Linked DNA regions of Homo sapiens. The protein of the gene in region 5 interacts with the protein of the main gene of each other region in a pairwise test. Each region holds a gene or a part of one and is shown on either strand. Other genes may lie near its edges.

Region 1 (3,500 bases), on a different chromosome or scaffold from region 5:
ACCACTACTATTATAGTTTATCATAAAATTATTTAAGCAACTTTTCTATGGTCTTATAACTACTTAGTAGAAGGTCCAGAACTAGCACAGAGTGTGAGGTATACCCACCCCAATACCTACTTAATGACAAAAGTTTCAGTAGAAGATGCAGTTGAAACTACAACCTAAACCAAAAAGGATGAATTTTCCACCCATTGCAATCTCAATTTCCACCAATAATTGAGAGATTGAAAGAGAGCTGTTAGAGGTAAGAAGACCTTCGGGTAAGACACTATTGACCTTATTCTGCCATCATGGGGGATAGGTGTTATAATCTTATGACAATCTATTCCTGCACCTTTTTTCCCCTCTGGGGATCACTCTGCTAAGTTCCGAGAAGTGCCATCTTTGAGATGCAGATGGGGCAAAGATACAACCAGAGAACTTTCCTCATGAGCGACGATCGATTACCCCATTACTTAAAGACCAGTAGACGTACATTTTTTTTAGCCTGAAAGAGTGAAATGCAGTGATATCCTGTGAAATAAGATATGAATCCTGAGATAATTTATTATAGAAAATACAGTGCCTTAATTATTTACATAACCCACAGGAACTCAAAGCACTTCACAAACAACTCATGAATTCTCTACTTATTTATCAATTATTGCATTCCTTAAATCTTACCACACCATTGCAGGTAAAGGGCAATGGAACCAAAATTATTATATTCCTCCAAATCAGGTTAATATGGCAATGAAAATGAATGGGTGCTTCTTAGGGTCATAAGAGAATGAATAAGAGCTGTTTGGAGCTGGACCTAGGACACTGTCTCTATCATGTGGTGCTTTGGTAAACTTTTTTTTTAAAGGAAAAGCAATAAAAAGAATATTTAGATTCGCTTCACCAAGTTCAAACATAGTATCATCCATCTAAAAGAGATTTGAAACCAAATTGAAGAATAAGCTTTCCTAAGATATGCCTATGACACAAAAGAAGTCAGGGTCATGCTTTACAAATGAAAATGTCTTCCAATTTAAATTATGTGCAACATCTAGGTTTTGGTTTATTTGCTCGTTTGGGGGTATTTTTATAATTTTGCCAACAACCACAACAAAAAGTTCATGGATGTCAACAGAATGCAGGGGCAAAACCATGTGAATAGGTCTGGCACCAGCAGTGAACTAAACACACAGGCAGGTAATGCCCCCTTCTCAGCCAACAGTGCAGCCTACTGTACAGAACCCACCCACACCCGGCCCAGCTCAATGCCCCACAGCTCTTAGTTCACAAGGTTCTATGTTTCCCCGCTTATAAATCCCCTTCCAGATCCTTCAGTATAACCTAAATCGCTCTCATGTCCAATCCTCACAGACACTCCTATTGTTAGAAAAAAATGACACCAAAATTTCCCAAATTCTCATTCTGGCAGCTTTGACCAAATTGCTCTTTGCACTTCTCAAAAGCCAGAATTGTTCTAATTCTAGTAGTAGACTAAAAATGGAATACACAAAAGTGACTAAAAAGAAAAGTCATTTCTCATTACAAGTTCTTCTTATATTATGTCTGTCAGAGTTATATTGTTGTAGGTCTACGGCTTATATCCACATTATAATAAATAAATAATATAGGGTCTAACCACATTACTTCTGCCTTAACACACTGTACCTGAAAGATAGCATCAGGTAAAACTGATTTGTAAGTTCCTTTCATTTGATCCCCTTTTCTTTCCTCTGCATCTTTACCAGGAGGGAGAAAAAAAAAAAATGAACCAAATTCTTGAATTTTCTCATCAGCAAGAAAAGTTTTTGCATTTGCTGGCTATCGATGACCTTCTACAAAAATGACTCCTACCACTTCAACCCCAAAAGGAATCTGATCAGAGGCTGCTTCTAAATGGTTTAAAGTTATTTTACTCCTATTTTGCTCAAGGCCTAATACCATCAGAATTCTCTTCCCGCAATCTCTAGCTTCCTTCCATAACCCACCGCCCCTCCACCTACATATGCAAACATACACACACACATATACATAGACACACAAATTATTCTCTAATGCTTTAAAGGGGAGAGGAGAGGAGAAGTCCCATAATGTAATTGCTATATTAAAAAGAAGTGGCAGGCGAGAATAATAAGGGAGGGTGTCAAAAGTGAAATAAAGTAGTAGAATTAAAAAAACACACACACACTACAGTTCTGTGATGGGGGTGTTAATTGAACACAGAGAGAAAAGGAAAGAGAGAGAACAAAAGGGTGTTAAGGAGCAAAAAATAAATTTTTTTAACCTCCTCCAAAGATTTGATTTGCGTTAACTTTGATGCAGACAATGCACAGAGGAAAATTGGCTGAAAAGTGCCATATATAGCTATTATGTTCTAAAATTAAAAACTATTCACAACAATTGCAGCTATTCATTGCTATCTATAAATATTCTCCTTAGTAAATGGCATTCAATATTTTTCGTGTTTTCCTAATTTTTAAACTTGCGTGATTTTGACACAGGAATAAAAAACATCAGGAAATGTTTAAAAATATATTCAAGGTTTTTTTAAAGAAATGTAATATGCTTGACTTTTTCTCCTTTTCTTCTATCCCACCAACCCCATTACCACCATATATACACATATGCAAAACTTAGCCTATTACTAATATGCCAGAAGACAAGGAATGGATCTTAAAAATCCAAAAGAAAGTGTTATATTAAATGATCCAAAACTCTAATTGTCTCTGTATTCCTAGAATGAGCGAGCAGATAAAAGCCACATGTGAAATATACATTGCTATAGGTCTTGACAGGGTTTTTTAGCTGCTCTTTGAGAATTGCCACCCGAGCATTTTGCTGGCACTTCTTCTTAGCATTTATTTTTTTAAAAGCGAAAATGTATCAGAATAAAAACTACCCACATTCTGAAGCAAGAAGATGCATGGGTTCTTTTGTTTTGTTTTGTTTTTTAAATATCCCCACAGTAATTTCTGACTTAAACACCCATCAATCAATTGTAATTCAGATGGCACCTTCTACTTTGGGGTGTTACGTGCATGTGTGTATGTATTTTTAAAGTTCCAAAAGGTTGGTAATACATCTTAGCCAGTTTTTGTATCTATTTCTAAGTCTTCCAACTATAAAATCATTAACAAATGCAAAAAAGCAAAAATAACAAATCAATGCAATTACCAAGTTCCTCTCAAGAGTTCTGCCTAGGTGAGCCAAATGTATGAACTTCGTGTTAGAATACAAACAAACAAAGCCCACCCTAAATCAAGTAACCTCTATTATTATTATAAGCATTATAATGCTTGAGATGGAAACTCAAAAATACTCATTTAATGCAAAAAGGCTTGAAAGTAACAATAGAAAAAGTCCCCAAACAATAAAGGAATGTATGTGAACTGATCACTCAAGCGATGTTTTCACCAGCTCTGTATCAAGAAGAAGAGGGGGAAAAAAAAAAAAAAGCTCCTGCAACTTTACAGACACTTTGTTCCTCCGACCCATCAACTGCATGAAAGATATGCTGGCAA
Region 2 (3,500 bases), on a different chromosome or scaffold from region 5:
GGCCAACATGGTGAAACCCCGTCTCCACTAAAAATACAAAAATTACCTGGGCATGGTGGCGTGCAACTGTAATCCTAGCTATTCAGGAGGCTGAGGAATGAGGATTGCTTGAACCCAGGAGGCAGAGGTTGCAGTGAGCTGAGATCATGCCAGTGTACTCCAGCCTGGGCAACAGAACAAGACTCCATCTCAAAAAAAAAAAGTCCTTTTTAATTCTAAGTTGTAAGTATCTGAGGATACAGCAAAAATCTAAGAAAATAATTTAGTTGCTACTGAAAATAACATACAGCTTAAAATGTGTGGCTGGGCGCGGTGGCTCACACCTATAATCCCAGCACTTTGGGAGGCGGAGGCAGGCGGATCACGAGGTCAGGAGATCGAGACCATCCGGCTAACATGGTGAAACCCCGTCTCTACTAAAAAAACAAAAAATTAGCCAGGCGTGGTGGTGGGTGCCTGTTATCCCAGCTACTTGGGAGGCTGAGGCAGAAGTATCACTTGAACCCTGGAGGCAGAGATTGCAGTGAGCTGAGATCGCGTCATTGCACTCCAGCCTGGGCAACAAGTGCAAAACCCTATCTCAAAAAAATAATAAATCAATAAAATAAAATAACAAATCAATATATAAACAACTGTTTTTTAAGCATTATTTGTGTGCCCAGCACTGTGGTTTAAAAGTGGGAAAAAAATGTTTTCAAGACACATGAACTGTCTTTCAGGGTGAATCTAATTCCTAACATAAACCAAAAAACTGCCCACATTTTGCTGAAAATAACATGCCATGGAAACATCATCAGCAGCAAAGAGATGGGCAAATATAGCCCAGTGATTATAGACTAATATGACTTTATTTTTTAATGAATAAAACAAGATTAGGCCAGGCGCGGTAGCTCATGCCTGTAATCCCAGCACTTTGGGAGGCTGAGGCAGGCAGATCACCTGAGGACAGAAGTTCAAGACCAGCCTGGCCAACATGGTGAAATCTTGTCTCTACTAAAAAATATAAAAATTAGCCGGGCGTGGTGGCACACACCTGTAGTCCCAGCTACTCGGGAGGGCAAGGCGGAACAATTGCTTGAATCCAGGAGGCAGAGGTTGCAGCGAGCCAAGATCGCGCCACTGCACTCCAGCCTGGGCAACACAGCGAGACTCCATCTCAAAAAAAAAAAGAAAAGAAAAAAGATTAAAATAGCACACTTCTGATTCAAATTATTATTATTATTATTATTATTACTATTATTATTATTATTATTTTGAGACGGAGCATTTGCTCTGTTGCCCAGGCTGGAGTACAATGGCACAATCTTGGCTCACTGCAACCTCCACTTCTTAGGTTCAAGCAATTCTCCTGCCTCAGCCTCCCATGTAGCTGGGACTACAGGCGCCAGCCACCATGCCCCACTAATTTTTTATTTTTAGTAGAGACAAGAATTCACCATGCTGGCCGAGCTGGCCTTGAACTCTTGACCTCAGGTGATCCAGCCACCTCAGCCTCCCAAAGTTGATTCAAATTATTTTAACAATCTATTTTTAATTTTCTCAACTCTCAACAGGAATGGTTACAACGTTATCCAAGTGAGGTACTTCAGGGCGTGTCTCACTGTTACAAAAGCCTATCTTGGTTACAAAACCTGGTCTTTTCTTTCCCACCTTGGGATGCCAGTAGGGAAAGGATACTTTTGAAAGGTATGTTAAAAATGTCTCCTCCTGAGATAAGGTCAGTGGTTCTCAGTCTATGGTAGGTCTCCTTTTGTAGTATATACTGTAATACTAATTGGCACTTATCAGATTCTTCTTTATTGTTACCTTTTGTCTTAATGCAGGTGTCATGTCCCATTTCTCTGTAAGATAGAAACATGTCTGCACATGGAAAAAGTTCAAATATTCCTTGACAAACCAAAAGCCAATGTATCACTTCAAATGTCTCATCAGAAGACAGATGGTAGCCCAGGCATCTTGGCTCATGCTTATAATCAATCCCAGCACTTCGGGAAGCTGAAGTGGGGGGATCACTTGAGGTCAGGAGTTCAAGATCAGCCTGGCTAACATGGTGAAACCCCACCTCAACTAAAAATACAAAAATTTAGCTGGGCATGGTGGCACGGCCTGTAGTCCCAGCTACTTGGGAGGCTGAGGCAGGAGAATCGCCTGAATCCCAGAGGCAGAGGCTGCAGTGAACCGAGATCGCACCACTGCACTCCAGCCTGGGTGACAGAGCAAGACTGTCTCGGAAAAAAAAAAAAAAAAAAACAAAGAAAAGAAAAGAAAAGACAGATGGTATATAGGCCCTAGTGAGGAAGAATTTACAAAACTTACTTATAAATCTTACTGTTTCAAGAACTATTCACAATGTGTCTGACTTGACCCAATAGATGCTTTTCCTTAAAAACACATCTTAAAATCTTTTTTACAAATTGCAATTTCCTTACATAGGTAAGTTCAAAAATACTTATATTCAATTGAGATTTTTTTTTCTTTTGAACAGGCTGTCACCTAGGCTGGAGTGCAGTGGCGCCATCTCAGCTCACTGCAACCTCTGCCTCCCAGGTTCAAGAGATTCTGGTGCCTCAGCCACCAAAGTAGCTGGCGTACACTACTACACCCGGCTAATATTTGCATTTTTAGTACAGACTGAGTTTCACCATGTTTTCTAGGCTGGTCTCACATTCCTGGACTCCAGCTATCTGCCCACCGCGGCCTCCCAGAGTGCTGGGATTACAGGTGTGAGCTACCGCGCCAGGCCTAAGATCGACTTTCTTTTTATTTTTTTTTTTGAGATGGAGTCTTGCTCTGTGGCCCAGGCTGGAGTGCAGTGGCACGATCTCGGCTCACTGCAACCTTTGCCTCCTGGGTTCAAGCGATTCTCCTGCCTCAGCCTCCCGAGTAGCTGGGACTACAGTCGTGCGCCACCACACTCAGCTAATTTTTTTTTTTTTTTTTTTTTTTTGGTAGAGATGGGGTTTCACCATGTTGGCCAGACTGGTGAACCGCCACCGCGCCCGGCCAAGATTGACTTTCAATTTACAACAGCTTTTAACTAACTTCTAGCTATTTGACTTGGGAAGTCAAGAAGCAAATAATTTCTAAACATCCATTCAGATGCTCAAGGATGCCCCTGGAAAGTACAGTGATAGTACGTTATCAATTTCCCCTGAAATTACAACTTTTTTTTTTTTTTTTTTGAGACGGAGTCTCACTCTGTCACTGAGGCTAGAGTGCAGTGGCGTGATCTCGGCTCACTGCAACCTCCGCCTCCCGGGTTCAAGCGATTCTCCTGCCTCAGCCTCCCGACTAGTGGGATTTCAGGCGTCCACCACCACACTCGGCCCACAACTTCAAATTTTTAAAAATGCATTATATAGCAGGAAATGTAAACTAATGCATCTATCCTCTTTAAGAAATTAATCTGGGCCAGGCGCGGTGGCTCACACCTGTAATCCCAGCACTTTTGGGAGGCCAAGGCAGGCGGATCACTTGAGGTCAGGAGTTTGAGACCAGAC
Region 3 (3,500 bases), on a different chromosome or scaffold from region 5:
ATGGGCAAGAGTGACTTACACGGCAGGAAACAGCCAGTTGAGCGCAGAGGGTGCTGGGAGATGGACACCCTGCTGCCTCACTGCGTGCGCACACCTGTCGGGATGGGAGACGGGCGCCCTGCTGCCTCACTGCGCGCACACCTATCGGGAAGCCCCAGACGGCTATCCCACTGCTTGTCACCCGCCAGAGAAACCCAAGACAAAGGCACCAAGAGCCACACACACACAGACGTTCACAGCACCAGATGAAAATCAGGAAGCACCCACTTGTCCTGAAGTGGGTCCCTGGCAGCTTGAACATCCCCACACCCCAGGCCATCTGCTGAAAAGCCTGAGGCAAAGGCCTAGCTGGCTACTCTGCCCCATGGCCTGTCCCTCCTCTACCACTGCCTGACCCTCATCACTGGGGTAAGTCTTGAAACCACAGACTCCACTTCATTCTTTAGAAAAATGGTTTTAACTGTTCTAGGTCCTTTGCCTTTGCATGTAGCTTGTGTAGTATAAAAAACTGAGATTTTGTTAGGACTGTGTGAAATCTACAGATTCACTCAAGGGGAATGATTTAGCAACATTTGTAGGAAGCCAGCTCTGAACTGTCAGAGTGGGCACGCCTGGGCAGCACCAGGGGCAGAACAGCCACGGAACCCAGTGCACGGAGGGGACGCAGCTAATGCACAGGCAGGAAAAGGGGTCAGAAATCCCGAAGTCAGGAAGGAAGCTGTCGTCAGCAGCATCAGATACCAGAGGCTAAGAAACTGAGGACTGAGAACAGCCCCTCGGCAAGTGGCAATTCGGAGGGGTTCCCTGGAGACCCTGAAGGAGAGCAGAGGGCAGGGCTGCAGAGAGCAAAAGGCATCCCCCAGTGAGGGGGAGGTCCGCGGGGACGGGAGCAGCAGTGCCATAGAGGGAAATGGGAGGGGCAGTAGGAACACACATTCTCTCTCTGAAGGGAGGCTTTCCTGAGACCCAGGACCAGCACAGAGCCACACACGGTTGTGGGGAACAACGGAAGCGATGGGAGGGGACCAAGATAAAAGCACAAGTGACAGGGTTGGGGCTGGCAACGGCCGCACCACACCCAGGGGCTGCCCCCTCTTCTCCCAACTGTGTCCAGCCCTGTTGGGGGAGCAGCTCATCTCCACCAGCAACTGACCTAGCTGGTGAAGTTGAGGGAGACTGGGTGTGGATACAGAATTAATATTCACTATTTATTTTTAAAAAACTAAAACCACAAAACAAACAAAAAAAATGTAAAGCTGGCATAATTTTGCTTGTCAAAGACCACCACCCATTTTGGTTTTTTTTTTTTTTTTTGAGATGGAGTTTTGATCTTGTCACCCAGGGTGGAGTGCAGCGATCTCGGCTCACTGCAAGCTCCGCCTCCTGGGTTCAAGCGATTCTCCTGCCTCAGCCTCCTGAGTAGCTGGGACTACAGGGCCCCACCACCACGCCCAGCTAATTTTTTGTATTTTTTTAGTAGAGACAAGGTTTCACCGTATTAGCAAGGATGGTCTGGATCTCCTGACGAGTTTCACTCTTGTCACCCAGGCTGGAATACAACGGCACGACCTCGGCTCACTGCAACCTCCGCCTCCCGGGTTCAAGTGATTCTCCTGCCTCAGCCTCCCGAGTAGCTGGGATTATAGGCATGCACTACCACACCCGGCTAATTTTGTATTTTTAGTAGAGATGGGGTTTCTCCGTGTTGGTCAGGCTGGTCTCGAACTCCTGACCTCAGATGATCCGCCCACCTCAGCCTCCCAAAGTGCTGGAATTACAGGCGTGAGCCACCGCGCCCGGCCGACCACTACTCACTCGGTGGTATATATTCTTCAGATCAGCTGAAGGCACACACACGCATCGTAACAAGTACTTTAACACGCCCTGGACACCTGCTCCCGGGCCTTATCTCACCACGGCCTGCTGGCATCCCCAACGCTGGTCATGGGCAATGACACGATGATGGAGGGCCCACCCTACAGATGTACTCCCGCACTCTGGCTGCCCTAGTTGCAGATGATCCAGAACTGGGATTCCTGGGCCAAAGGAGAGTCCACAGGTGTGGCTGTGTTAACTCGGCCAAAATGCCTTCAGGAGAGCCTTTTTCATTCTTACCCACCCACAACCCTCCCGACAGTCCAAAGCAGGGGTTGCAAACCTTCTTCTAGCAGCAGCACTCTCTTCTAGTGAAATCTCATCCAAAGCCTCCACACACAGGCAAACAGAGCCTGCTGCTCCAGCCACCTGAAGCCGGGGCCCTGTGGCTGGACAGCAACTGCTGACCTGGCCCTGCTCTGCCTTGTGCTTGCCGGCGGGACAGTATTCACGGGCACACTGACTACTGACCTGGTCCAGATCGAGGCTGGCGCCAGCCTCCGCCAAAGGCCCCAGAAACTTACTGACAGCTCCAGCATCTTCTCTATAAATGACACTAGGTCTCTAGGTGGTGTCTGCTGACCTGGAGGGGTCAGGCTGCTGGATCAGCCTTGGTAGTCGATGAAGGGCTGAGGTGCTGGACAGGTCCTGCAGCCTACCGAAGCCCCAGGTGCCACCACACAGGGGTACTTCCACTTAGCTCAGAGACCGTCCTGGGGATTGCGAAACCCTGGGGGCGCCCAGCACAGAAGGCACACTGAATAACTGAATATATGTGCCTTTCCTTTGATGATATGCACTGGGTCTTAAGAAATAGTAGAACAGGCCAGCTTCAGTGTTTACCCCGGTCTGGTTTTCTCAGCTATGGCCCTATGGTGTCAGAGGCTGGTGAACACAGACGCTACAGGCGGCCCTGCAGGCTGAGACACATCAGCAGAGCAAACACTTCCAGCGTGTGGAGAAGCAGACGAGGAGGAGTTCCAACTAAGCCAATTTAACTAGCACACATCCAAAGTAGAAAGGCTGCTGTTTGCAAATAAAAGATGTTGAACAGGCAAGGCTGACTGAGAATATAAAAACCGCCTGGTGTTCTTCTCCTAAGCACAGAATCCTTACCTTCATAAGGGGTCATCTCTGGGCCTCGGACGACATAGTGCCTAAGGGAGAGAAGAAAATTACTTGGGATTTGAGGACAGCAAATTCTCCAAAATCTGAATCATTCCAAGCCTGGGGTTTATAGAACCCAGCCAAAATTACATTCACATTCAGGCAGTGAACAAATGAAGGTGAAATGTCACACAGCCACACGGCTTCAAAACCCCCGTCTCTTCTACCGTGGGTGCTTTTAGTCTCTTGTAACAGGATCTTAGAGACTATACTTTATAAGTTTACCATAAAGTACCTTTGTTTCGACAATATAACATGCACGAAGCTCATCTTAATAATAACTGAAATCTTAAATAAATTTTAATTTCACAGTACATTACTAAGATGTACTTGAAGACTGTAATCCCAGCACTTTGGGAGGGCACGGTGGAAGATCGCTTGAGCCCAGGAGCTTGACACCAGCCTAGGCAACATAGCAAGACCCCACCTTTATTTAAAAAAAAAAAGTTAGCCGGGTG
Region 4 (2,700 bases), on a different chromosome or scaffold from region 5:
CTCATGTATATGTATTATAATCTGAGCCTCTCTCCTTTTATTCATATCCCTGAATCATCATCCTGCATATGATGATTCCTTTACAATGATTGTCCTTGTCCTTTTAAGTGTTCTTTAGAAAAATAATTGCCTTTTATTTTTTTAGCATTTAAGATCAATTTTTAGCTTTTTTTTTGAGACAGAGTCTTGCTCTGTCACCCAGGCTGGAGTGCAGTGGCGCCATCTCGGCTCACTGCAGCCTCCACCTCTGGGATTCAAGTGATTCTCCTGCCTCAGCCTCCCAAGTAGCTGGGACTATAGGTGTGCACCACCATGCCTGGCTAATTTTTGTGTTTTTAGTAGAGATAGGGTTTTGCCATGTTGGTCAGGCTGGTCTCAAACTCTTGACCTCAGGCAGTCTGCCCACCTAGGCCTCCCAAAGTGCTGGGATTACAGGTGTGAGCCACCGTGCCTGGCCTGGTATTGCAACTTGTTAATTGCTGCCTTTTGGAGTTAATTTGTTGGTAAACAGATATGATGAACAGTAAAAGATCCAATTTGCCACACCATCACTGCTACTTTATGTGAAAGTTTATATTTCAAACTGAACTTAATTTTAATTGATTTTAGGTCGTTCAATGGGCTCAAGAGCAGCTGCTTCTGTAATGTGTCACATTGAGCCAGATGATGGTGATGATTTTGTTCGGGGTCTCATTTGTATTTCTTACCCACTGCACCATCCAAAGCAGCAGCATAAACTCAGAGATGAAGACCTCTTTCGTTTAAAAGAGCCTGTACTGTTTGTGTCAGGCTCAGCAGATGAAATGTGTGAAAAGGTGAATTATAACTCAATGTTTGTGTCAATGAAAGAGAATGAAAGGCAGACATATCTTGGGAGCAAGATACTTCTGGCAACAGTGTCTTTTAAAAATTGCTAATTTGACTAATGCTAGTTTTGTGTCCTGGTTACTCTGTTGCTTTTGAGAACCTAAAAATATAAGTATAGTGACAAAATTTGTATCCCTGGAAATAGAGTTGGTAAATATGACCCTTACTTGGAAAATGAAGGATTAATATCTGAATCATCTGATTTTGGGATTACTACACTATAGATTTTTTTAATCATTTCAACATTCAGGCAGAGTATTTGTTATAAAATTGATTCTTGAGAAAGGGTTGGCAATGTCTACACATTACTAAATATTAGCCCAATATTATGAAACAACTTTATATTCCCCAGGGCATATAATTTGCTTGGGAAAAAGATTTTTGGGGGAAGAAATTTTTTTATTCCAATTTATTTTACATTTTATTAGTAATAAATGCTTGATCTGATACTGCTACAGCTGAGAGAAGTGGACTGCCACTTTTACGGACATTTCCTCACACATTCTATTACCTAGAAAGTTGTCTGAGAAAGCATTTAATGAATACTTGGGAATGAATGCCAGTATAGGCAGGGGAGAGAGGACCTTTTATTAAATATCAACAGAACATTAGTCTAGTATCCTCTTCTTTTTCTCTTTAGAACTTGTTGGAGAAAGTGGCACAGAAAATGCAAGCTCCCCATAAAATCCACTGGATTGAGAAGGCAAATCATTCCATGGCAGTGAAAGGACGGTCGACAAATGATGTTTTCAAAGAAATAAATACACAGATTTTGTTTTGGATCCAAGAAATTACTGAAATGGACAAGAAATGTCATTAGTTAAAAGCCATGTTATCTTGAGTACACATACAGTTAATTTGATAAAGAAGAGTATGCCTCTCAGCATTGTGAGATATATTTCAGACTAATTTGATGTTCTTTAATGTTCCCTTATTTTTGAAACACGTTTTAAATGTGAAATTAATGTCCTTCACAAAATGTCTTTTGAAAGCACTGTTACAGTTGTATAAAGATGATGTAAAAATATTGAAGGTGGTCTACATATAATTTATTTTCATTAGTATAGTTAAGTTTTGAAAAAAATTAAACATCTGAATTTTGTTACAAAAAGGTGCTTTTGTCTTATTGATAGGCAACTGAGAAATTTTGCAGAGCAGCGTTATCTTCAGAAAAGGAAAACATTATGGTTAATCTAGTCAGAGATTTATAGAATGCACACATCTCTTCACCTTATCTTTTAATAAATCACAATGAAAGGATAGGAGTGGACATATGTTTCAAATATGGGGACCCTGAAGATTTTTTAGAATGAAATAAAGATCTTTAATTCAAGAAGTGTTCACTGAAGGCTTATTACAGGCAAACCTCATTGGGTTTGCAAAGATGAATAAAAACTTGGAGCTTACAACATAGTGTGTGAGGCTGGGCACGGTGGCTCACATCAGTAATCCAAGCATTTTGGGAGGCTGAGGCAGGCGGATCACTTGAGGCCAGGATCACTTGAGGCCAGGAGTTTGAGACCATCCTGGCCAACATGGCAAAACCCTGTCTCTACGAGACCATCCTGGCCAACATGGCAAAACCCTGTCTCTACTAAAAATACGAAAATTAGCCAAGTATGGTGGCACACATCTATAGTCCCATCTACTCGAAGGATGAGGTGGAAGAATTGCTTGAACCCAGGAAGTGGGGGCTGTAGTGAGCCCAGAGCACACCACTAGACTCCAGCCTGGGCAACAGAGTGAGACTGTGTCTCAAAAACACAACATAGTGTGTAAAATCAATAGACTACTCTGATTAAAGAGAGAAATAATTGCTAAATTGTAGTACTA
Region 5 (3,968 bases):
TTTAATGGGTACACAGTTTCAGTTTGGGAAGATGAAAAAGTTAACGGAGATAGTTGATGGTGATAATTACAAAACAATTTGAATGTATTTAATACCACCAAACTGCATACTTAAAAAGATTAAAATGGTAAATTTTATGTTTAGCATATTTTACACAATAAAAAAAAAACTTTAAAAAATTTTCAAGCGTCTTGCCTATTATCCAGTCTTCCTTTTGCTAAATGAATTTGAATCAATTTATACTACTGTATGTTTTTAAAAAGCAAAAAAGTAAAATAATCCATGTAAAATGTATTTTCCTCTAGTGAGTACTAAGCTCATGTAAAAACCAAGTTCAAGATTTCCTGCTTCTCTTTTAAAACCGAGAAATATTAATATAAAAAAATGAATCTTCTCAGAAAGAAACCTGAGGCTAAATCACTCTACTTACAAATTATTTCACTAATGTCTAGTGTGTTTAAGTGTCAAAACAAATACATTTCTGAATTTCCAAACTTTTTATTAAGTCTTTCTCCAGAGGGCCAATTCACTAGTGAGCCTCCCTGATGTCTAACTGGCATATTAGGTAATAGACAGTATAATAGATGATTAAATAGCACCGAAAATATCATTACCCATTCTCCTGTGTAAACCAGTTTTTAAGTTTTAATTCACTAATGCTTTCCTGCCTTTCAACTCTAAACATGAACAGTTGTAAAACGTTCATTACATTTCACAACCTCTGAAAGGAAAATATATTTATTACATTATAGAATTCGATGACTTGTCCCAAGACTTCTAGTGAGTCAGCTTTAAGTATGGGAAAATTCAAGTGGTGCCACCACCCAAACTGGGGCTCACATCTTTGTGGACCTAACTGATAAAGAAGAAATACATTTCATGCAAGTCAAGACTTACTTAAGAAATAACTACAACTGCACCATTTATAAACATATATAAGATTTTTTTAACATTATCGCAGAAAGTCTGAGAAACAAGATTTTTAAAAATAATTCTGTCACATATAAATATACAAAAATAGTGAGAGATCACCTTAACTTTTTCAAATTAAAAAAATCCTATGGTCAGCTGATTTTAAATCTCTTTGTCCATCTGTACTATTTTCTTTCATTTTGATATCAACCTGTTTCCCTAAACTAAAAAATAAAAATAAAAACTAGAAACAAAACAAAAAAAGACTATTAATTCAATTTAACCGGAATTGACTTGAGAAATTAAGGCTTTAATTGCTTTTGCTGTACTTTTCAAAGTAAAAATATATCTGGTGGGAAATATTCATCAACGTGTTTAGTGAAAGGCAATGTCAAAACTAACATCACCTAAAATCAAAATTTCACCTTGCCAGATTAAATAGCTACTTACTCATTTAAAAAGACCAATACATGAATGCATAGTGAAAAAGTATCCAGGTAACTTAATTTGCAGTTTTGTGTAGTTCTGCAGATCTGTATGTATAAAATAACAACTTTGCATGTGTTTTGAGATGTACACATTCTTGTAAAATTTCTAGAAGGATGTACAAAAGAGTTAAGTGACTACTTTTAAGGTACAGATCAGAGAAGGGAGTTGTTTATTTTTCACTTTATGCTCCGCTCCTTCGATAAAATGGTTGGAGTTTTATACACCGCCAACACAATGTTTTTTCAAAAGACTTCTAAATTTCACTTTGTAGTTTAAATCATACACTCTGTAAAAACTTAATTGTTTTTCATATTTATTTAATCTCCCAGATTACCTACTTTGTTGATCTCGTGGTTTGGGGGCTGAATACACTCTTCTCCAACTCCTCCAGAATCTTTTATTCTTATTCTAAAATTAAAATAATGTTATCTTTAATGTTTTCAATTTATTGTCTCATGTCATAAAAATGGTTGTTAGTTCACTGTCTTTGATATTTATCTTCACGATGCTTCATCGTGTTTTCAGAAAAGCCACAAACACCAACACAGTTGCTGGAGCTGCAGTAGAGGTATCGCTTGTTCCTTGAAAATCCTAACTCTGACCAAACAGACTGTCACAAAGGACCTCTTTTCACAACGTCAAGTAGCTTATGAGCTCTCGACAATATTACCCAACAATGGTGATGGCAGAAAAAACATTCACGGTCATTTTAGAGTGCTTAAAATTAACTGCAAGACAAAAGCATCCATGGGAGTAAAATACCTTGCCAGCTCTAAATTATAACTGATTTAGTATAGTTTGCTCATCTCTCTGTTCTGCCATTTCAATGCTGTGGGACCTGGGTCAGTATTACCAAATACCTCTCAAAAGTGAGGCTTCACATCTGTAAAATGGGTAACTGCACCTACCTCACTTAAGTCCTGCGAGCACCTCCCACAAAGGGGCTCAAAATGGCAGTACTCTTCCCTTCCCCTTCTCAAAGCTCCACTCTCCCAGGCCTCCCTCCTAACGCGCCTCCACCTCGGCACCCGCCCGTCCCCAACCCCGCGGGACTGACCGACTCGGCGGCGTCCGCTCAGCTCACCCTCGCCACCACAGAGGGCCTCCTCCCTCACAGGAACGCAGCTCCACAGTGGAGGGACGGGAAAGTGGCTCCCCAAACTCCAGTATGGGACAAGAGGGAATGAGTGCAGGTCCCAAGCCACTCCCTCCATCGTCGCGCCCCCAGGACTCCCCGCCCAACACACTAGGCACACCAGACTGTGCTACAGGAAAAGAAAAAGGACTCAGAACCACCTTCTCCGCATCCGTAAAGGTCCTTAGACTCACCGCGGGGAGGAAGCGGACCAGGCAACTCCACAGCACGGAAACACAGCGCCACGAGCTCCAGGCGGATGCTGAGAGCCGCCCCGAGTCCCCGCCCTCCTCTGCCCCGAAGGGCTTCAGGTGCCCAGACCGGGCGGGGCCTCGCGGAGCCTCGCAGCGCAGGCGCAGTCTGCAGGCAACATTCAACTGCAAGGCATCGGCCAATGGGAACTATTGCTGGGCTCGTTCGAAAGTAAACGGTGGACGGCGCGGCCCGAGGCAGGTGGCGGGAGTCAGTTTAAGGCTGGCGCCCAGCTTTCCGCGCCTGCGTGCTAGGCGCAGGCCGCCTCTCGGAAGCTTGGCCTCGCAGGAGCGGCTCTCTATCCTGTGGGGAGCTTCGGCCAGTGGGCCTCGTGAGCTGGGGTCCCGCCTGGGGAATCCGCATGGCACCGGTGGTCTGGGGGAGAGGCTGGGCCTGGCGCGGGACGAGGCGAAGCGCCGGTGGCCGACGGCTTCTGAGGAATTATCTTTTACTTGGCGCCACACGGGGCGGGGCCTCCTGCTATGCTGTGGAGCGCAGTGTCTTCCATCGTTGCCTCACAGACCCGCTGCTCCGGGAAGTCGCCACACATTCTCAGGGAACACCCACATCTGTCGCCTGCGCCCTCCGCCGCTCAGCTGTTTGCTTTTGTTTACGCATTCCGGAGACCTGACCCACCGGAGCACTGGGCTGAGCACAGGAGAAGGGGCTTTGGAGCGCTCTTTGTACTCAACTCCAAGAGCGAGTGGGAAACTCAGGACTGGGTTGGGTAGATCCCTGCGTCTCTCCCTAGCCTTCGTCCTCTTCCCCCGTTTTTCCACTTTATGAAAGTATTGCCTAGAGATGAGGGCTGTCCAACTCAACACTTCCAACTTCAAGTTCCTACTTCACCTCTAACTCCCTAGAGTTAGAAAACAACGTACAGCTTAGAGGTTCCTTTCCCTTTTTTTCTTGAGAAACTTTATTCAGCTTTATCTCAAGACATCACCGCTTCCCTCTCCTGTCAACCTTAAATAGTGAGGTTCTGGAAATATGATTAAGGATAGAGTTTATTCCAGCGTAAGGCTTGAGGGTAGCCACCCAGGAGACACCAGCTCCAAATGGGGTTAGCATTCCAAAGTGAAGAAGTTAGGGTTTCGCCTAGGTGGCCAGAGACAAATTTTAACAGGATTTCATTTCCCCTAAGAGACCAGTGCATACTTACAGCTATTTGGTAGGTTAC
Region 6 (3,500 bases), 7.2 Mb from region 5:
GTTATCCATATGTACACAGAAAAGTATTTTCATTTATGGCACCAAGGTGTGCACATAGAGAAGCTAAATTATATTAGTAACTACCAGAGAGTTTGTTTCCTACGAGAGAAAATACCAGGACAAAAAAACCACTATAGACAATTAACCAGATAAAGAACTGAGAAAAAACTTGAGGGTAAAATAAATATCGCATAACTAATGAATGCGGCTTGGTGCAGATGAATTCTGTGATAAGAGGCAGATAGTATGAGTAGAAGGAGAAGGAACTTAGCAATTTGCACCAACCTAATAGCGCAGCTTTGCGAAACATTACACTGAAAGGCAAAGGCTTCAGATGAAACGTAAACATACATCTTATCAAAAAACTGCAATAGAAAAGTAGAGTTTCTAATCATGCCACCCAAATTTGCATGATACGCATTTATGCAAATGCACTAATGAAAGGGAATCCCTGTGCTTTATGTTGAGTTTGGTTTAGACTGGAAAACTCTGAAAAAATCTATTCTGAACCCTTCATGAAAACTCCTAACTTAAAACAAATAAACCTTGCTGAATTTTAGCCTAAGAATATGCAAATGCAGATTACAAACAGTAAATAAATGCCTGGCTTTTTTATTTTGGTCTGTTAAATCACGAGTCTCCACTAGTTTTCCATTAGTTGAGATGTATTGGACTTCAAAAAAAATACAAATTAATTTTATAACATATTTGCATAGCTCAAATGTACTCAGGCACACACATTCATTGATCAAAAGGCCTTTTGAAATATTTGCTGGATCATTTTTCCTTATCAACTCCATTGAGAAAAGGGAGGAAAATCCTCATTTCACAATGTTATTATAGCATGTACTGTTGAATGTATGCTAGGTTCTGTGCTAGGCACTTCATGTACATCATTTCTTTCAATTCTCACAAGTCATTACCCTCATTTTCAGAGGCACAAACTAAAATGACAGAAGTTAAGCAACTTATATCCAAGGTTACATAGCTAAATGTTGGAACACAGATTCAAATCTAGGTCTGCTAATATATTCAAAATTGCCTGAATATTTATTAGCTGTCAGGATTCTTTTTTACTTGTACTTTGATACAATCTATAGCATCACCTATAGTACTTGGTGTAATATGTATATGACATATGCTTATTGAAAAATGTTGCTAAAATGAATAAAGGGGATAACTACCTTAGATATAAGAAAGTAAAATATTGGAGAAACGCCTGAAGAAGAAATCATTTTCTATTTTAGTGCAATTTTATCCACTAATTTGTCAATTAATAATGGTAAGAACATACATGAAAATGTACCAATATATGACAGTGATACAAATAATTATACTTTAGCCTATCTATGCTATTCATATGTGGTTGAATTTTAGTCTCAGAAATAACATACATATCAACAAACTTGCCAGGGCAAATTATCCCTCCTCAAATGGTTAGGAAGTAAATTTTCATTGCCACCATTACTCTTAATTCAATTGTGCTAAATTAGTACACTCTAGAAAACAGAACTGAAGTATTATTACTCCCTCATAAAGAAAACAACACCCTAAAGAAAGCCTCTGTCAATGACTATAGACAAGACTCTTAAGCTCAATTTCCTTATGACTAAAATGTGCTGCTAATAATGTGGTTTTCAAACCGCAGCTCCCTAGAGTCACAGACGGTTTAGCAGAGATGTCTCAGGGACTCTGTAGGGGGAAAGAGGATGTCAAAGTGACAGGATGAGAGCTCTGGGCCTACATTTCTATGCCAGTTTCAACCACAATACTGTTATCTCTCTCACGTACTGGCATTCTATGTTAAAATATCCTTTTTCACATTTCTTTCAAATGGCAGAAACTCTATTTTTCAATCTCCAGATTACATCAACATTGGAAGTCTGTGATTGGGAAACAGCAGTGAACACCTGGCATTAGATTGCCTGGGTTCAAATCCAGCTCTACCACTTAATAGGTAAGTTCTGTGGCCTTACCTAATTTTCTGTGCCTGCTTCAATTTCCTCACTTGTTACTGGGTTGTTGTGATAAGTAAATAAATGTAAAGTGATTAAAATAGTGCTTAGCATATAATAAGTCCTATATAAATGATTGTTATTAAGATGACATTGATTATATAAACCTACTTCGATGATCTGAAGCAAAATCTGCTGCAAATATTATTTTAAATGTCAAATCTTCATAGAAATGTGTCATGGCTCATCAACAAGTACACGATTATCAAAGCAAATGAAAACTTACCAAATTATTTCAAAACTTTAGAAATAAATAGTCTAAACAACTAAGTTTGGGATCACTGACAATTTATCCTTTTACAGGCCAAACATGTTTACTTTAACTATACAGGGCGAGTATCCCTTAAACAAAATGCTTGAGACCAGAAGTCTTTAGACCTGGGGATGAGGCCCAAGTATAAACATGAAATTCATTTATGTTTCATAAAGTGCATCCATATATGCATACATTTTGTGCATACAACAAAGTTTTGATTGTGTTTTGACTACAACCCATCCATCACATGAGGTCAGACGTGGAATTTTCCACTTATGGTGTCATGTCACGGTGCTCAAAAAGTTTTGGATTTTGGAGCATTTAGAATTTGATATTCAAATTAGGGATGCTCAACTTGTACCAGATTAAAAATAAAACTCCATGAACAGTTGATTATCTTCCTCCTTCACATATTAAAAGTAGAAAAGGAAGCTGGGGCTTTCCCATAGGAAAGGTAAAATACAAAACCCTTAGGCCAGGCGTGTTGGCTCACACCTGTAATCCCAGCACTTTGGGAGGCCAAGGCAGGCGGATCACAAGGTCAAGAGATCGAGACCATCCTGGCTAACACAGTGAAACCCCATCTCTACTAAAAATACAAAAAATTAGCCAGGCATGGTGGCGGGCGCCTGTAGTCCCAGCTACGCTGGAGGCTGAGGAAGGAGAGTGGCATGAACCCGGGAGGCAGAGTTTGCAGTGAGCCGAGATGGCGCCACTGCACTCCAGCCTGGGCGACAGAGCAAGACTCCGTCTCAAAAACAAAACAAACAAACAAAACAAACAAAAAAACCCTTAGTGTTTGTCCCTTGTGACACAGATTTTGGCTATTCAATTAAAAGCCTTTTTTATATTCCTGGCCCTTAATTATTGTCAAAGAGTAGGGTCATTCCTTGATAGCTGGGTTGCATACCTATCACGAACCATTATTTTCTATGGGACATATTCCTCTCTTTATGTGACTCAAAAGAGAGTATCCAAACTAGCTAGGTATCCAAACAAGCTAAAATAGCATTTCTCAATGTGAATGACAAAGAATACTATTTTCAAAAGATGAATGTTTTCTTTTTCTTTCATAATTGAGATTTCATCAGTTGTGTTGAGGATCAGTACACAGACATTTCAACTTGTACATAATTCTGAACATATGTACTGCAAAATCTAAAAAGCCACGTATCATTATTATTCTCTAAAGTTATTCCAGTGACTTTCCAGCTTACAACTGAGGCAAA
Region 7 (3,500 bases), on a different chromosome or scaffold from region 5:
TAAACAAAATATAATGATAAATTATAATTTTTGCTATGAAGGGAAAGAACAGCGGGCTTTAAGACTTTTCTGAGTCGACATGTTAAGGAGAATGGAGGGCGGCAACTCCAGGCCATGGTTCTGAGATGGCGATGGGGCCTGAAAGGAATTAAAGAGAAGGCTAATATTGTTGGAGTCCTAAAAGCTCTTACATCACAGGGTGAACAATAAGCGGGGCCTTGTAATAGAGGTAATGCCTGCTTGCCATGAGAATAAAAACTTCCTACAAGGCAAATGTGTGTAGCTCTTCAAACAGAGGAAGATGCAAAGAGGCTAAGTTAGCCAAGACTTGTCATATAGAAGAGAAGCTCCTTTGCATGCATTTATCATATATCCTACTGTCTTTTCACCATCCCCTCTGAAGAGGGACTGCTAGCCAATGGCCTTTGGCCAAATTAGGAGTGAAATACACGTTTCAAACTGGGGCCTTTATTGAAAGACAGCTACTTATGCTTGGAGACTTGGGGGTGGAAAATGCGAGGGCTAATGCCCAGGGCTAAGAGTTGGTGATCAGGCCACACTAGAAAGTATTTGGTCAGACTCAGTTTTTTTTTCTCCCAGAAAAAGAATGTTAACCGTATGACATGCACTGACTGCCAAAGGAAGTCTAAAAAGAATAACCACATTATTGGATATTTTTAGCCTTTCTTTTCAAAAATGTTTTGTGTCACTGCTTTCCAAATAATTCCAAATCTTGTGAGTTGGCCAGAAGAAGAAATGGGATAAGGAGTATACTACTCAAATATGAGGCTTTATAGGACTGGAAACTTTTTCTTCTGAAATTCATTTAAAGGAATATGCCTTTGTGAATCTTGCTCACACAAACACAAAATTCCAATGGATTAATATCGTGTAAGAACAGAACATATCAGACATGCAGAAAAGATGTGTAAATCACCTTGCCCTAGGCAAAATGTCTGGTGAAAATGTTTATGCCCCATAATACGGGAATTAAAAATCAGCATTTAAAAAGCTAGTATAGGCCAGGAGTGGTGGCTCACACCTGTAATCCTAGCACTGTGGGAGGCCGAGGTGGGTGGATCACCTGAGGTCAGGAGTTTGAGACCAGTTTGCCCAACATGGTGAAAGCCCGTCTCTACTAAAAATACAAAAAATTAGCCAGGCACTGTGGCGGGAGCCTGTAATCCCAGCTACTCGGGAGGCTGAGGCAGGAGAATCATTTGAACCCAGGAGGCAGATGTTGCAGAGCCGAGATCACACCACTGCACTCCAGCCTGGGTGACAAAAGCGAAACTCCGTCTCAAAAAAAAAAAAAGAAAAAGGCTAGTAGAGTCAAAATACCTATTATGTCATAAACCACTATTCTTTTACCCCAGTGATCTAGCTCTAAACTTCTAATGGAAACACTAATAAAAGAGTGCAGCTCATTACTGTTGATTCTAGCAATAAGACACAACCAAATAATTGAGGCACAAAAATATTTGAATAAGAAAGAGAAAACCGAAAGGGTGAAGTTGAGGCCTGCTATGGGGAGTCTAATAGACTTACTTACTGAAGTAAAATTCTTCAGCGCAATTTTTTTTAAAGTGTGGGTTGTTCAGAAGACAATTTCACGTTTCTCAAGACTTCTTGACTACCCTACTTCTAAAGCAAAAATACTGTCTCATTTCCTTATTCCCATGAACTACCAAAGGCTCAGGAGGAGAGGTAGCTTAGCTAAGAGGTAAGACACACTCTGACAGATTATAACTTTAGACCATTTCTATTCTTTGGAAATCTGAATGTGTCCTGTATTTACAGGTAGTTTGATTTTGGTGGGAAATCAAGAAGGCAAATAATAAATTACACAACTGTCCACATTTTTGGTTTTGCTGAAAACAATGATTAGGTGGATCCTTTGAAACACAGCGAATCCACAAATACGTGAATCCACAAATACAAATTATAAACACTGTCATGACTATATGCAGGTCAGGGAGTTGAAATTTTAAGAAACAGCCAGGCGCGGTGGCTCATGCCTATAATCCCAGCACTTTGGGAGGCCAAGGAGGGCAGATCACTTAAGGTCAGAAGTTCAAGACCAGCCTGGCCAACATGGCAAAACCCCATCTAGACTAAAATACAAAAAAAAAAGCCAGGCCTGGCAGCGGGTGCCTGTAATCCCAACTACTCAGGAGGCTGAGGTATGAGAATCAATTGATCCTGGGAGATGGAGGTTGCAGTGAGCCAAGATCCTGCCACTGCACTCCAGTCTGGGTGACACAGTAAGAATCTATCTCAAAAAAAAAAAAAAAAGAAAAGAAAAGAAATTTTAAGAAACTCTTAAATTTTAGGTGTCCTTATTTGCAAAGGGAATATGGAGCCATAAAATTATTTTTATAGCTAAAAAGTAACAAAATAGAGAGTGTAATTTGAGTCTGAAAACCTGAGTTCCAGCCTTCTTGCTATCTAGGTGTGGGCCTTATACAATCACTAAATAATACCTCCCCCTTTCATTAAGTTAATGTTTCATACAGTTTTTGGGAGCACCATAAGATACAGTACATTTGAAAATGGTAAAGATCAGGGGCCAGGTGCGGTGGCTCACGCCTGTAATCCCAGCACTTTGGGAGGCCGAGGCGGGCAGATCACCTGAGGTCAGGAATTCAAGACCAGCCTGGCCAACATGGTGAGACCCCGTCTCTACTACAAAATTTAGCTGGATATGGTGGCAGGTGCCTGTGATCCCAGCTACTCGGGAGGCTGAGGCAGGAGAATCGTTTGCACGCGGGAGACGGAGGTTGCAGTGAGCCGAGATCACGCCATTGCACTCCAGCCTGGGCAACAAGAGTGAAACTCCATCTCAAAAAAAAAAAAAAAAAGAAATGGTAAAGACCCAGTTACTATCAAATCAGGAAAACATTCATTCATTCAGCTTGCATTCACTGAGCAACTACTGTATATCAGGTACTGATCGAGACCCTGCGGATACAATAAACATGACATTCAAACTGCCACAAAACGTCATATGTTCGTTCCCTTTATATCTTTTAGACAGTTTTGTTTTTGAGACAGGGTCTCGCTCTGTTGCCCAGGCTGGAGTGCAGTGGTGCGATCACAGCTCACTGCAACCTCTGCCTCCCGGCCTTAAGCAATGCTCCCACCTCAGTCTCCCGAGTAGCTGGGACTACAGGCGAGCACCACCATGCCTGACTAATTTTTGCATTTTTTTTGTAGAGACAGGGTTTCACCATGTTGTCCAGGCTGGTCTCAAACTCCTGGGCTCAAGCAATCCTCCCATCTCAGCCTCCCAAAGTGCTGGAATTACAGGCATGAGCTACCACACGTGGCCTAGACAGGTTTTTTAACCCTTTTCCATTTTTGTTGTTGTTCTTGTTGTTAAGAATGGGGTTTAAAGTAAGAAAAAAAATGAAAACATTTTCTTTATAAGGTTTTTGTTACTGTTGGGGATAGAAAGAAGTTGCACTATGTTCCCTTGCCTGGCAAGAGAAGAAAGAAAT

The links.
Region 1: the proteins of TRIM59 (region 5) and PBX1 interact in a two-hybrid assay, tested with the Homo sapiens proteins (one large-scale study listed by BioGRID).
Region 2: the proteins of TRIM59 (region 5) and SPTSSA interact in a two-hybrid assay, tested with the Homo sapiens proteins (one large-scale study listed by BioGRID).
Region 3: the proteins of TRIM59 (region 5) and UBE2J2 interact in binary tests that used the Homo sapiens proteins (3 or more experiments, as listed by UniProt).
Region 4: the proteins of TRIM59 (region 5) and TEX30 interact in a two-hybrid assay, tested with the Homo sapiens proteins (one large-scale study listed by BioGRID).
Region 6: the proteins of TRIM59 (region 5) and PDCD10 interact in a two-hybrid assay, tested with the Homo sapiens proteins (one large-scale study listed by BioGRID).
Region 7: the proteins of TRIM59 (region 5) and RASSF3 interact in binary tests that used the Homo sapiens proteins (3 or more experiments, as listed by UniProt).

Annotation. Positions count from the first base shown.
Region 1 is NC_000001.11:164,565,684-164,569,183, reverse strand, and holds part of PBX1 (pre-B-cell leukemia transcription factor 1), read right to left. Parts: intron 1-3,500. UniProt on the Homo sapiens protein: Transcription factor which binds the DNA sequence 5'-TGATTGAT-3' as part of a heterodimer with HOX proteins such as HOXA1, HOXA5, HOXB7 and HOXB8. Binds to the DNA sequence 5'-TGATTGAC-3' in complex with a nuclear factor which is not a class I HOX protein.
Region 2 is NC_000014.9:34,455,741-34,459,240, forward strand, and holds part of SPTSSA (serine palmitoyltransferase small subunit A), read right to left. Parts: intron 1-3,500. UniProt on the Homo sapiens protein: Component of the serine palmitoyltransferase multisubunit enzyme (SPT) that catalyzes the initial and rate-limiting step in sphingolipid biosynthesis by condensing L-serine and activated acyl-CoA (most commonly palmitoyl-CoA) to form long-chain bases.
Region 3 is NC_000001.11:1,260,355-1,263,854, forward strand, and holds part of UBE2J2 (ubiquitin-conjugating enzyme E2 J2), read right to left. Parts: intron 3,033-3,500; coding exon 2,992-3,032; intron 2,037-2,991; exon of another isoform or gene 1,931-2,036; coding exon of another isoform or gene 1,915-1,930; intron 1-1,914. UniProt on the Homo sapiens protein: Catalyzes the covalent attachment of ubiquitin to other proteins. Seems to function in the selective degradation of misfolded membrane proteins from the endoplasmic reticulum (ERAD).
Region 4 is NC_000013.11:102,765,388-102,768,087, reverse strand, and holds the end of TEX30 (testis-expressed protein 30), read left to right. Parts: intron 1-609; coding exon 610-815; intron 816-1,507; coding exon 1,508-1,687; 3' UTR 1,688-2,200; downstream 2,201-2,700.
Region 5 is NC_000003.12:160,446,987-160,450,954, forward strand, and holds the start of TRIM59 (tripartite motif-containing protein 59), read right to left. Parts: upstream 2,801-3,968; 5' UTR 2,731-2,800; intron 1,810-2,730; 5' UTR 1,740-1,809; intron 1-1,739. UniProt on the Homo sapiens protein: E3 ubiquitin ligase involved in different processes such as development and immune response. Serves as a negative regulator for innate immune signaling pathways by suppressing RLR-induced activation of IRF3/7 and NF-kappa-B via interaction with adapter ECSIT.
Region 6 is NC_000003.12:167,689,893-167,693,392, forward strand, and holds part of PDCD10 (programmed cell death protein 10), read right to left. Parts: intron 1-3,500. UniProt on the Homo sapiens protein: Promotes cell proliferation. Modulates apoptotic pathways. Increases mitogen-activated protein kinase activity and STK26 activity. Important for cell migration, and for normal structure and assembly of the Golgi complex.
Region 7 is NC_000012.12:64,613,495-64,616,994, reverse strand, and holds part of RASSF3 (ras association domain-containing protein 3), read right to left. Parts: intron 1-3,500.